Linked DNA regions of Homo sapiens: region 2 is linked to region 1. Evidence: fine-mapped QTL for protein levels in blood plasma. A gene starts in region 1. The other region holds a variant in brackets. All regions are shown on one strand. Distances are between the middles of the regions. Region 1 holds the start of NOG (noggin). Region 2 has its middle 56 kb from the start of C17orf67.

Region 1 (5,376 bases):
GCCAGATGGGGAGGGGGCTACAGGCGGAGCAGGAGCCAGACTGAGGAAGGGAAGGGGCTGTCGGGGCTGGAATAAGCTCGCTGAAGCTCCTTTCCTCCTTTGGTCTTAAACTTCGTCTCTATTTTGGGAAATGTATTTCACATGTATTTGCCCACGTTCCCACCCCAGACCACGTTTTAGAGTGATTTCCCACTCTCTCCCTCCTCTTTCTCTCCTAGTTTCCCTCTTTTGCCCAGCATGCCCATTTTAGTTACTTCTCACCAGAATCTAACCACCAATGGGACACACACACACACACAATTATAATGCCCTGTGAAGCTGAACTGGGTTCTTTCTACCCTCACTGTGAGTTCTGAACTGGCCAGGGCTCCCCAGCACCCAGGAGGCTACATGGAGTTCACCACCCTCTGACCTCAGTGCCACCTCTACTGTCACCTTCTGGCAGTCAAGAGAGATATGTGACAAGCCTCATGGCTGACTTGGTCTCCCTTTGCTAACTTAAGTCAAGCCCAAGAATGCCATTTTGGGGTCTCATTAAGAGAAAGCCCATCAGATTCTATATTTATGGGTCCCAAGAGATTGTCAGAAACAGAGGGTAGAGAATTTCAATGCCTGGGATGACACCAGCTGTAAAAGATGGCAGTTCTCATGCATTCTCCAAGGACGTCTCATGGTCCTTGAAAGGTAGAGTGTCTCACCCAAGGTCGCACAGCTGGTAGATTGCAAGTTTTCTGACCTCAAGCCCCATGCCCTTTAGGCGTCACCCACAGTTGCCTTAGGTCTATGTTTCCAGGGCCAAAGAAGCAAGAAGATTGTCAAGTTGTTCTTCGAATCATGATAGAAATAAGAGAAGATACATAAAAGCACCCTCAGGCTCCTCTTGCCTTTGACCTGGAGTTGCCCCAGCGACTGTTTAAAGGAGTGCTTCCATTTACCTTGCCCAGAGAATTTTGCAGGGACAGAAACCTGGGATGGGGCTACCCAGGGACAGGCCTCCATTTATGTTGTTCATTAACTCTTCCTATGTAGCCTCCTGAGGCCTAAGTCCCCAACCAAGCCCCACTACAGTCCAAGCACCGCCCACAGCGAGAGTCAAGCTGATAGCCGTACTTCCATTGGCCCATCTTCCGCCCACAGCTTCCTTTGCAAGAAATACAACCCTCTTTGTCCAGTTTTGTCAAGCTCCCTCTTCAACAGAACCACAGAAGCATCAAAATGGGTTGACTACAGAATCTCCTAAGAAACTACAGTCCTCCCTCCCTCAAACTCCTGAAGCCTGGCAGCCCTCAAGTTGCACAGATGGAGTGGACAGAAAGCAAGTCCAAAGGTGTTGGAGTTGATTTCAGCAGCATCCTCACCCCTTCAACCCTCTTCTGCTCAAACCTGAGATGGTTGGCCAGTTGAGGGCAGTGGGGTTCTCTGAAGAAGTAACGTGTTGTAAAACCATTGCCCGATATAGGCTCTGCCCCAGGCACCTTACTAGGCTAGGCATTCCTTACCTCTTTTACGTGGCATGATTCTGAGAGGTGTGTATCATCCCCATCTTACAGATGAGAGAATGGAAACGGGGTGGTTAAGATGACTGTTTTAAAAAGGTAACACAGCCGGTGAGGGGCACAGCCAGAATTCCAACTTAAATCCACCTGGTCCAAAAGTCGTGGTGCTTCCCTGTCTGGGACATTTCCTCTTCCACCTCTCATATCCCCAGATTTTCTGGCTGTCCCTCATACAAGTGTGGTTCCCTTCTTCATGTAGATGTATATCCTATCTCTCAAATCTCTTCCTCTCCATACTCAGATAAATACATCCTTCTTCATGAAGCTCAGCTAAAATTCAGCTCTACCATTAAGGTCTTAGTACTTCCTAGTCTCTGATACCAACATCCCCAGGTTCACTCAGTACCTAAGCGCATGGGCTACTCCAGTGTGGCACAGAGTTAGGAGTTGCAAGCTTCCCAAATGTGGCATTTCAGAACTTCACATTGAAGAGGGGTAGATATGGTTTGAAAACAGTATAGCTAACATAATTGCTTGGGCTTCTTTTTGGTTATAATAATGTATTTTAAAAACTTTAAACAACATTCAAAGAAGAGCATGATATTGTTATATCTATCAAAAGGGGACATGGATTTTAAAAAGAAAAGGTTATAAAAAACTAGTCCACACTGTTATGGGAATTTATAAATTTTTCTGATGTCCTTTTACTATTTCTTCTTGTGGTTGTCATATCTCCCCTAACTGTACTACAAAAGTCTTGCAGGATGGAGACTGACTATGAATTTTTTCTTCTTTGTATTTTTCCTGATGGTCTTCACCCAGTAGATACTCCATAAACAGGTCACCCAATCTGTTCTCAAGCATGATTTGTTTCTGGTTCCTGAGGGACCTTTTTTGCTGTTCAGTCAAATCTGCTCAGCCCAACTAAATAAAGGATCTGGGTTGGTTTTCAAGCAAAAATAGGTGATTTGAAGGAGAGAAGAGGGGGATTAAAAGAACAGAAACCAGCATGATATAATGTCATTAATTGGAACCTACCATCTCAGGAGGGCTGAGCTAGAGTTTAGCCCTTGAACTCCACTAAATAATTTTCTTAGTTAATTCACATCAGTGACAAAATTGCTCTGGAACATGTAATCTTCATAAGGAAACAAACTAGTGCTGAATCCCCATAAAGCACATAAAAAAGAAAGAGGTATGCTTAGGAGCCTACTATGTGCTAGGTTCTTTTTTTGGAGGGGGAGGAGTTGGGGAGGTGGGAACAGAGTCTCACTCTGTTATTCAGGCTGGAGTACAGTGGTGCAATCTCAACTCACTGCAACCTTTGCCTCCCAGGTTCAAGTGATTCTCGTGCCTCGGCCTCCCAAGTACTTGGGATTACAGGAGCCTGCCACCACGCCCAGCTAATTTTTTTTTTTTTTTTTTTTTTTTGTATTTTTAGTAGAGACAGGGTTTCAGCATGTTGGGCAGGCTGGTTTCCAACTCCTGACCTCAAGTGATCCGCCTGCCTCAGCCTCCCAAAGTGCTGGTATTACAGGCATGAGCCACCGTGCCCGGCCTGTACCAGGTTCTAATCACACATTATTTCAAAGTCAGCCCAATTCAAACAACCAATGGGTTGTTGTTAACTCCAGTATCCATCAAAGCAAGATCTCCTTTTGAGCAGTCCCTTGATAGTCTAATTCTAGTTGTCTAGACTTTAAAATTGAGGGAAACGCTTTCAGCGGAAACTGCCCACCCCTTTTAATAGAGGTTTTGCAGAAAGACTGTAGTATGCAACAAAGTGTTTTCTTCCTTAGACAGATGATAAACTTTGGGAGTTGGGGTGGGGCAGGTTGAAAGGAAAAACCAGATCTTTGGGGAAAGAAAGTTAAGCGATTTAGGTTGTCACAATGGGACCTCTTAACTCCCACTCCATGGAAGACTGGCAAATACTTGAGTCATCCACTCCAAGTCTCTCTTCTCCAGCTTTTTCCAGATTCCAATCACATTCACCACAAAGAAAACTGAGTTTGCATTTTAAAGCTGAGATTGAGTTCCTCGTCCAAGGGGAAATTAACCGGAGGTGTCCCTTCAGTACCCATCTCCCATCAAAGAGAAACTGCTTCTGAACAAGAGAAAGCATCGTGGAGGTTTATTTAAAATCACAGAAAGGTAGGGCTGGAAGAGAAATCTATTAATAGTTACGTCACTAATGCGAAAAGTGAGAAAAATGACTTGTCCGAGTTATATCAGGGTGGACCCCGGGCAAGACTCAGGTGCCTCTGCTGTCAGCTCACCTTTCAAGTTTCTGGTCCCCACTCGCACCCACTGAGACCAGAGACCGATTTACCTGAGGCAGAAGGTGCTGCACGCATTCTTGTGAAATTTGAGGGGACCGAGAAGGAATCTCAGGAAGTTTGTTTACACTGGGGGCCTGGAGACCTTCGGGAAAATAGCCAGAACCAAAACGGACCAGTCAGCAGACGCAGACACACACAAAGTGACAGGGACACAGAAGCAGAAGCTGAACTGGGCAGAGCGGGCAGCGGCCGACCCACCTCGCACGGCCGCCCCCGCCAGCGCCAGGTGCAGGGCTCATAGCGGGCCAGCAGAGGGCGCGCCGCCCCCAGGGAGCCGAGCGGCGGCCGCGCGGAGCCGGGCGGGCTAGGGGAGCCGCAGGCGAGCCAGTCGCGCCCCTGAGGCTAGGCCACTCAGGGTGCAGGACCCGGCCAAGGAGGAGGAGGATGGTGAGGAGCGGAACCCCCTCGTGGGCCCGAGGGGCAGACAGACAGGAGTGCTTCCTAAGAATTACATCACGCTGCGCAACGCTGCGGCTCTCGGACTCCCTGGTGCAAAGGGGGGTGGGGTAGGGGCTGTGTGTGTGTGTGTGTGTGTGTGTGTATATATGTGTGTTGGGGGGAGGGGACTTAGAGCAAGAGCCCGGGAGAGAAGAAGACGCGCTCGGGGAAAACGCTCCATGCACATGGAGAAATTTCTTGCTCCGAACTGCATGCACCGAGAAACGAGCCCCCAGCACTTCCCCGCTGCTCCCCTCCCAGTGCAAAGCACCCAGCTAGTGAGAAACCCTCCAGCCCCACCTCAAGCACCGCCCCCCCTCCCCAAACACCGGCTCTGCACCCTCCAGCCCGGCTCCAGCGCCGCCGCGAGCTTTCCCCAGGACTGGCCCTGGCGGGGCGCCTAGAGCCCCAGTTGCATTGCTCCAGGAGAAAGGAGGGGGGCGGTGCATTTTGCAGGAGGAGGAGAAGGGGGGTGGGTGGTGGGGGAGAGAGAAAATTGCGCGGAGACCTGCCAAGCGCCACCGCCGCCGCCACCGCCGCTGCCGCCGCCGCCGCCGCCGCCTGTGAGCTCCGGCGGGCAGCCGGACTGTCGGCTTCCCGGGGCATCTGGGTCCGGCGGGGCACAGCCCTGGGCGCTGCCGAAGCCGCCGCCGCCGCCTCCGCGGCGAGTACAGGCGGCTTCCCCCGGAGCCTGTGCAGCTCCAGCTCCTCGGGGGTGGAGAAGTGGGGGGTGGGGTTGTTGTTTGGGGGGAAGAAGGGGGAGGGGGCAACGCCGAGAGAGTCAGTGGTTTCCATGGTGATGGAGCTGAAAGTGCAGGAAATTTAAAGGCTTGGACCCTGCGAGACAGACAAACCGGTGCCAACGTGCGCGGACGCCGCCGCCGCCGCCGCCGCTGGAGTCCGCCGGGCAGAGCCGGCCGCGGAGCCCGGAGCAGGCGGAGGGAAGTGCCCCTAGAACCAGCTCAGCCAGCGGCGCTTGCACAGAGCGGCCGGACGAAGAGCAGCGAGAGGAGGAGGGGAGAGCGGCTCGTCCACGCGCCCTGCGCCGCCGCCGGCCCGGGAAGGCAGCGAGGAGCCGGCGCCTCCCGCGCCCCGCGGTC
Region 2 (5,376 bases), 190 kb after region 1:
TTCTCCTTTTCAGAGCAGGATTAAAAATGAAGTAAGTTCATCACTCTGTGATTTAATGTAATTTAATGCCATGTCTGTTTGCTACTTAACATTATCTCCCTGCCATCAGCAGAGCACCTCACACACATTTGGGAAGTTGGAATCAGAGAGAGTGTAAAGGTGAGAGGATGAAGGCTCGGTCATCCATTTAAATTTAGGGGCACTCCTCCTTCCAAAGCAGCTCTTCCCACTAATTAATACCTAATCCAGACAGGGCGAGGTGGCTCACGCCTGTAATCTCAGCCACTCGGGAGTCTGAGGCAGGAGGACCCCTTGAGCCCACGGGTTCAAGACTAACCTGGGCAACATATTGAGCTCCCTATCTCTACAAAGAAATTTAAAAATTAGCCAGGCATGGTGGCATGCACCTGTAGTCCTAGCTACTCGGGAGGCTGAGGCAGGTGTGTCACTTGAGCCCAGGAGTTCAAGCCTGCAGTGAGCTATCATCCTGCCACTGCACTTCAGCCTAAGCAATAGAGTGAGACTCTGTCTCCATTTTTATATATATATAATATTATATTATATATTATTATATATAATACTACATGTTATATTAATTTACTTAAATAAATTATATATATTAATATATTATTTATTATATTAGTATACATAACATATATACAAATATGTATAATACACTATATATATATATATACACACACACACACACACACACACACACACACACACCAAGTCAGACAGGACATCAATTGAGAGAAGATGCCCTTACAAACTTGCTTTTTTCAGGAATTTTCGCCTTGCCCCAAAGGCTACCTAGGAAGTACTATAATGGGCTAAAGGACAGAGAGGAGCACCCAAGAAAGGTCCTTGTTCCAACAAGATCACATGGGAAGAATTTCAGCAAAACAAAGCAGCAGCAAAGGACCTATGGCTTTTCGACCTCAACAAGGTTCTGCCAACTCCCCAAAGCAAGCTAAGAATGACTGAAGATACATCATGTGGCTGAAATTTCAAGTCACTACTATTTCTTCCAAAAACATAAAAGTATAAGAAATGGTTTGCCACCTAAGATTGGTTTCCCAAACAAATGCCAAATCATCCTGTAGGAGAGCCTAACCCCGCCATGTGTGGTCTTCCCTTATATGGCCCCTCCAATTCCAGGAACGCCATTCACCTTCTCCATTCCAGCACTGCCCTGCTCACTCGGTTGGGACCTCACCCACTCCATGGCATTAAATACCATCTATAAGCCAATGATTCACAATCTACAAGACCAGCCCAGCCTATCAGCTGCATGCCAGACCCTACCTGACACCTGCCCCTGGACATCTCACTAGGACCTCAATGTCAATTGAACACATGACCTGCTCTGCCCCAAACCCACTCCCTTCCACCATCCACTCTTCTGTTCAAACTCAAAACCTGGAAGTCTTCTGTGCTTCCTCTTTCTCCCTTGTTCCCACATCCTATCAATTCTGTCACCTAAATGTTTGTAGAATCCACCCACCTTCTCTGCCCTGACCCCTCCCACCCTACTCCAGGCCACATTCATCTCTCCCCGCCACCTACTACAGAGGTTCCTAGTTAATCTCCCATGCTGCCTTGGCTTCTCTCTAACCCTCTCCGCTCCATACTGCAGATAGGTACAAGAGGCATTTTTTAGATGTAAATCTCATTACCTTCTTCTCCTTGTTTAAAATACTTCTGCTGAATCCTATTACCCTTGTAATGAATCCTCAAAGCCTTACTGTGGCTATCAATCAAGGCTATGGATGGCCTACCCCACCCCTGCCCCATCTCTGCAAGCTCACCTCAACTCACTCTCCCTTCCCTGTTGTTCTCTCCACTCCAACCCTGCAGGGCTTTTCTCTGTTTTCTCAAACCTTCCACATGTTCAATTTCAGGGTCTAGCACAAGCTTGGAACACTCCACCTCCTCTCTGCCTAGCTACCTGCTGTTCATTCCAGACAGCAATCCTCTGGAGGCCTTCCCTGATCTCTGGGCCAAAATAGGGTCCCCTCACCCCTATATAAACTCCATAGCACTCTGAGCACACTGGCCTTCTCCTTCTCCTTCCCAACACTCAGCAGAACAGTAATTATTTTTCCCCGTTAGGCTGCATCCTCCATGGAGATGGACCCACCAATATCCCCACACCTAGTACTGTGTCCATGAATATAGCAAGTGGTTCCTAAATATTTGGAGACTGAGTGGTAACTGTGAGAATCACTCCCAAGCAGCCTGAGTCCCCACCCCCACAAAGAGATCTGAGTCTTCCTCTCCATCCACTTTCTGAAGAAAACTCAACAGTATGCATTTTGGTCTTGGAGAACGTGGTGTCTCGTGACACCACTGGGAATACTGACAAAAATGTGGCTGTAGTGGGTTCACCCAGCTCTCAGGAAGGAATAAGTGTCAGGTCATGCTGCATCATCCACAGGAAGAGCATGAGCTGGTGCTGACAGCGTGGGGTGTCCCAAGCCTTTGGTCTTGGGTTTCTCTTCCTAGAGTATTTATATCCATCCGGAGAAGCCGGCTGGCATCATTAATTGTGAGCGTGTGTCCACTCAAAGCAGCCATATACCAAATATATCGAGTATCAAGCCTAATATGGATATCCTTGTTGATTTATATATTGTTAATAAGCAACAAGAAGTGAATGCCTAAGGTGGGATGCCAAATGTTTGTCTTCCTTTGTCTTCTCAAACGTGCAAGGTTGTTGGTTTGGTGTACTGTTCGTTTTTCATGGAAGAATGACTTTTTAAAAGAGAAAGAGGGAGTTATGAGGCCCACAGTCATTTGATGAACTGAATAAGGACAAACATCCAGGTCACAAGTGGCAGCAAAGAATGCAAATTCTGTGTCCAGTGTCTCAAAATAAGAACCACTAACACTTAGTGGAGATTTGTGCCAAGCACCATTCAAAACAAATACACTAATTCATTTCATCCTCATGATACCTCTGAGAGGTAGGGGCTACTATTACCCCCATTTTGCAAATGAGGAAACCAAGACCCAGAGAGGCTTAAGTGACAGTCCAGTTTAGCAAGCAGTAGAGTTGGAATTTTCACCCAGGAACTCAAACTCCACAGTTCAGAAGTAGTCGGGCCCCATGGAGATCCATCCAGTCCAAAGCAAAGACAAACCCAAAGGCCCACTTCC[A/G]GAGGACTCAGACTACTGCCCTAATTTGGTCTTTTCTCTCTTGAGGGCCACAGAGAAACCATAGCCACAGTGCTGACCTCAAGGAGTTTACATTTTTGCAAGGAGATCAAACAAGAGCACAATGTATTTACAGTAACATAAATTAGTAAGTGTGAAATGCCATGCAAGGGATTTAGACGCTGCCCAAGGAGAGAGAGGTCTGAAGCATCGACTGATGGGTCTGTCTTCCTGCTCTGCCGTTGCCAGGTTCTGTAACTGTGGGCAAGTCGGTTGCCCCCGCTAAGGATAAACTTTCCAATCTGTAAAATGGGATGATGATGATGATGATGATGACGATGATGACGTCATTTCTAGTTCCTATCTCACAGGGCTGATGTAAGGATTAAATGAGAGAAAGCATGCAAAGCATTTAGGACAGGGATATGATATGTTCAGTATGCACCGGCCCTTATTTCTAGCAGAGGAGTTCGGGATATCATATATTCACTCACAAACATATATTAAGCACCTCCTAACAATGCACTAGGAACTGTGCCAGGTGCTAGGGCTACAAAGAAGAATGAGACAGTAGCCAGGCTTTCAAAAAGCTCATCCTCCAGAGAAAGGGACAGTGGGGGAGGCAGGCTGCCAGGACAGTAGGAGTCTTGAGTCCTTGCAAAAAGAATCGGAGAGGGTGCCTTGGAGGAGGGTGACGGGAATGCAGGAATGGGGTGAGGGTGTTTCCCACATGTACAAAGCAACGGCAAGCAGGCAGCTTCAGGGCTTCCTATCTGCCAAGTGGGTAGGATTGGGGATGGGCCTTGATGACCACACACAGTTGATTCCAGGGACACTCAGTTCGAGATTCCAGGCAGGTAGCTCTGATGTTGTGAAGTCTGCCTCCAAGTCCTGAAGTTCTCTTTACCTCCAGACTCAGCTTGAGACAAGAGAATAAGTACTGAACATTGAAGTAGAAATCCAAGTGGGTTTTTCTTTTCTTTTTTTGTGCCCTGTTATTTGCCTGTTAGCTAGACTGAGGATAAAACTGAATTTATGTCTCACCAAGGAGGCACAGGAAAGTGAAGAGAGAGAGAGATTATACAGGGTTTTTTTTTTTTTCCTTCAAAGTGTCTCCTCTGCAGACGCCTGGTGCAGCTCTGTCTCCGGGGAGCGGTTCACCCTCCAGAAAATATGACACTTTATTTCCTGCCCTTGTTTGCTAACACACCCCATTACCATCCATCTCAGTTTCATGTAACTGCCAACCGGCATTAACGCCCTCCTCCTCGCCGAGGCAGAAAATAGAAAAGGAAGAATTCAGCAGATTTTCCCCGGTGGCCCCCTCGGCGGCACCAAGATAACCAGCGCAGAAACCACAATTGGATCCTTATTCCTCCAGCCCAGGAATGCGAAGGACGGGACGGTTTAACCGCCTTCTGCATTTTCCTGCAAAGAGAGCCGGCTTGTTATTTCGGTTGTCTGGGCTCCCTTCTTTACTACGGAGAAAGATACATTAATTAATTTTTTTTTTTAATGTTAGGCAGGAAATGTTGCAAACTGTCAAGAGCTGTCAGCGGGCGCCTGCCCCAATCAGGTAAGCGGCGCGCGGGCGCCTGCGGCGGAGACACACTGACCCCTAGTGGCCGACCGGGCCCTCGCAGCCCCCGCGCCCGCCCTCGCTCCGGGCGGCCAGAGTCGCAGTCAAGTCGCTCTTTGCACAGAGCAGCTCTGTGTGGACTGGCGGGGGTGTGGCCGGTGCTGTGTCTCCACCGCCCGCCCCAACGCAAGCACGCGCGCACATACACCCCATGTCCATTTGCTCTTCCAAACCAGAGAAGCAATTTCTGCTCTCCTTGTCCAATTCCAGAGAACACAGATGCCTGAGAACCTTAAGCAGTGTGCCTCTGTGCTGTTGCTCAGGCATGTGCCTCTGCTCTTGAGGAGTGACGGGAAAGACAGACAGGGTCCCAGTGTGACACAGGGCTGAGAGGAAGGAAGGGGGTGGCGTTTGTGGAGACTCCCAGTACCAGACACTGTGCACACGGTTATCCCTTGGAGCCTGATGATAGCCCCAGATTTGGAAACTGAGGCCCCAGCTGTCACATGGCTTGTCCAGGTCACAAAGCTGATGTTTTTATTCATTTGTGTTGATTTTAATAAACAAATGTTTACATAGCTCTTGTCTGCCAGGCTTTCTTCTAGTGCTTTACCTATATTAAAATTACCTGTGTGGAA

What was found. PIP is the chance, under the fine-mapping model, that this variant and not a neighbour inherited with it causes the effect. Sun 2018 read protein levels with aptamers (SomaScan).
Region 2: its variant is fine-mapped to the plasma level of the NOG protein (Sun 2018, PIP 0.91).

Annotation. Positions count from the first base shown.
Region 1 is chr17:56,588,573-56,593,948 of GRCh38, forward strand. It overlaps NOG (noggin), which reads left to right and starts at 5,127. Exons shown (of 1, transcript NM_005450.6): 1 at 5,127-5,376. RefSeq lists a silencer at 3,980-4,189.
Region 2 is chr17:56,775,617-56,780,992 of GRCh38, forward strand. No RefSeq gene overlaps it. Among named protein-coding and RNA genes, the nearest start is that of C17orf67, 56 kb to the right of the region's middle. RefSeq lists a silencer at 4,685-4,924. The variant A/G (reference allele first, on the strand shown) is at 3,163.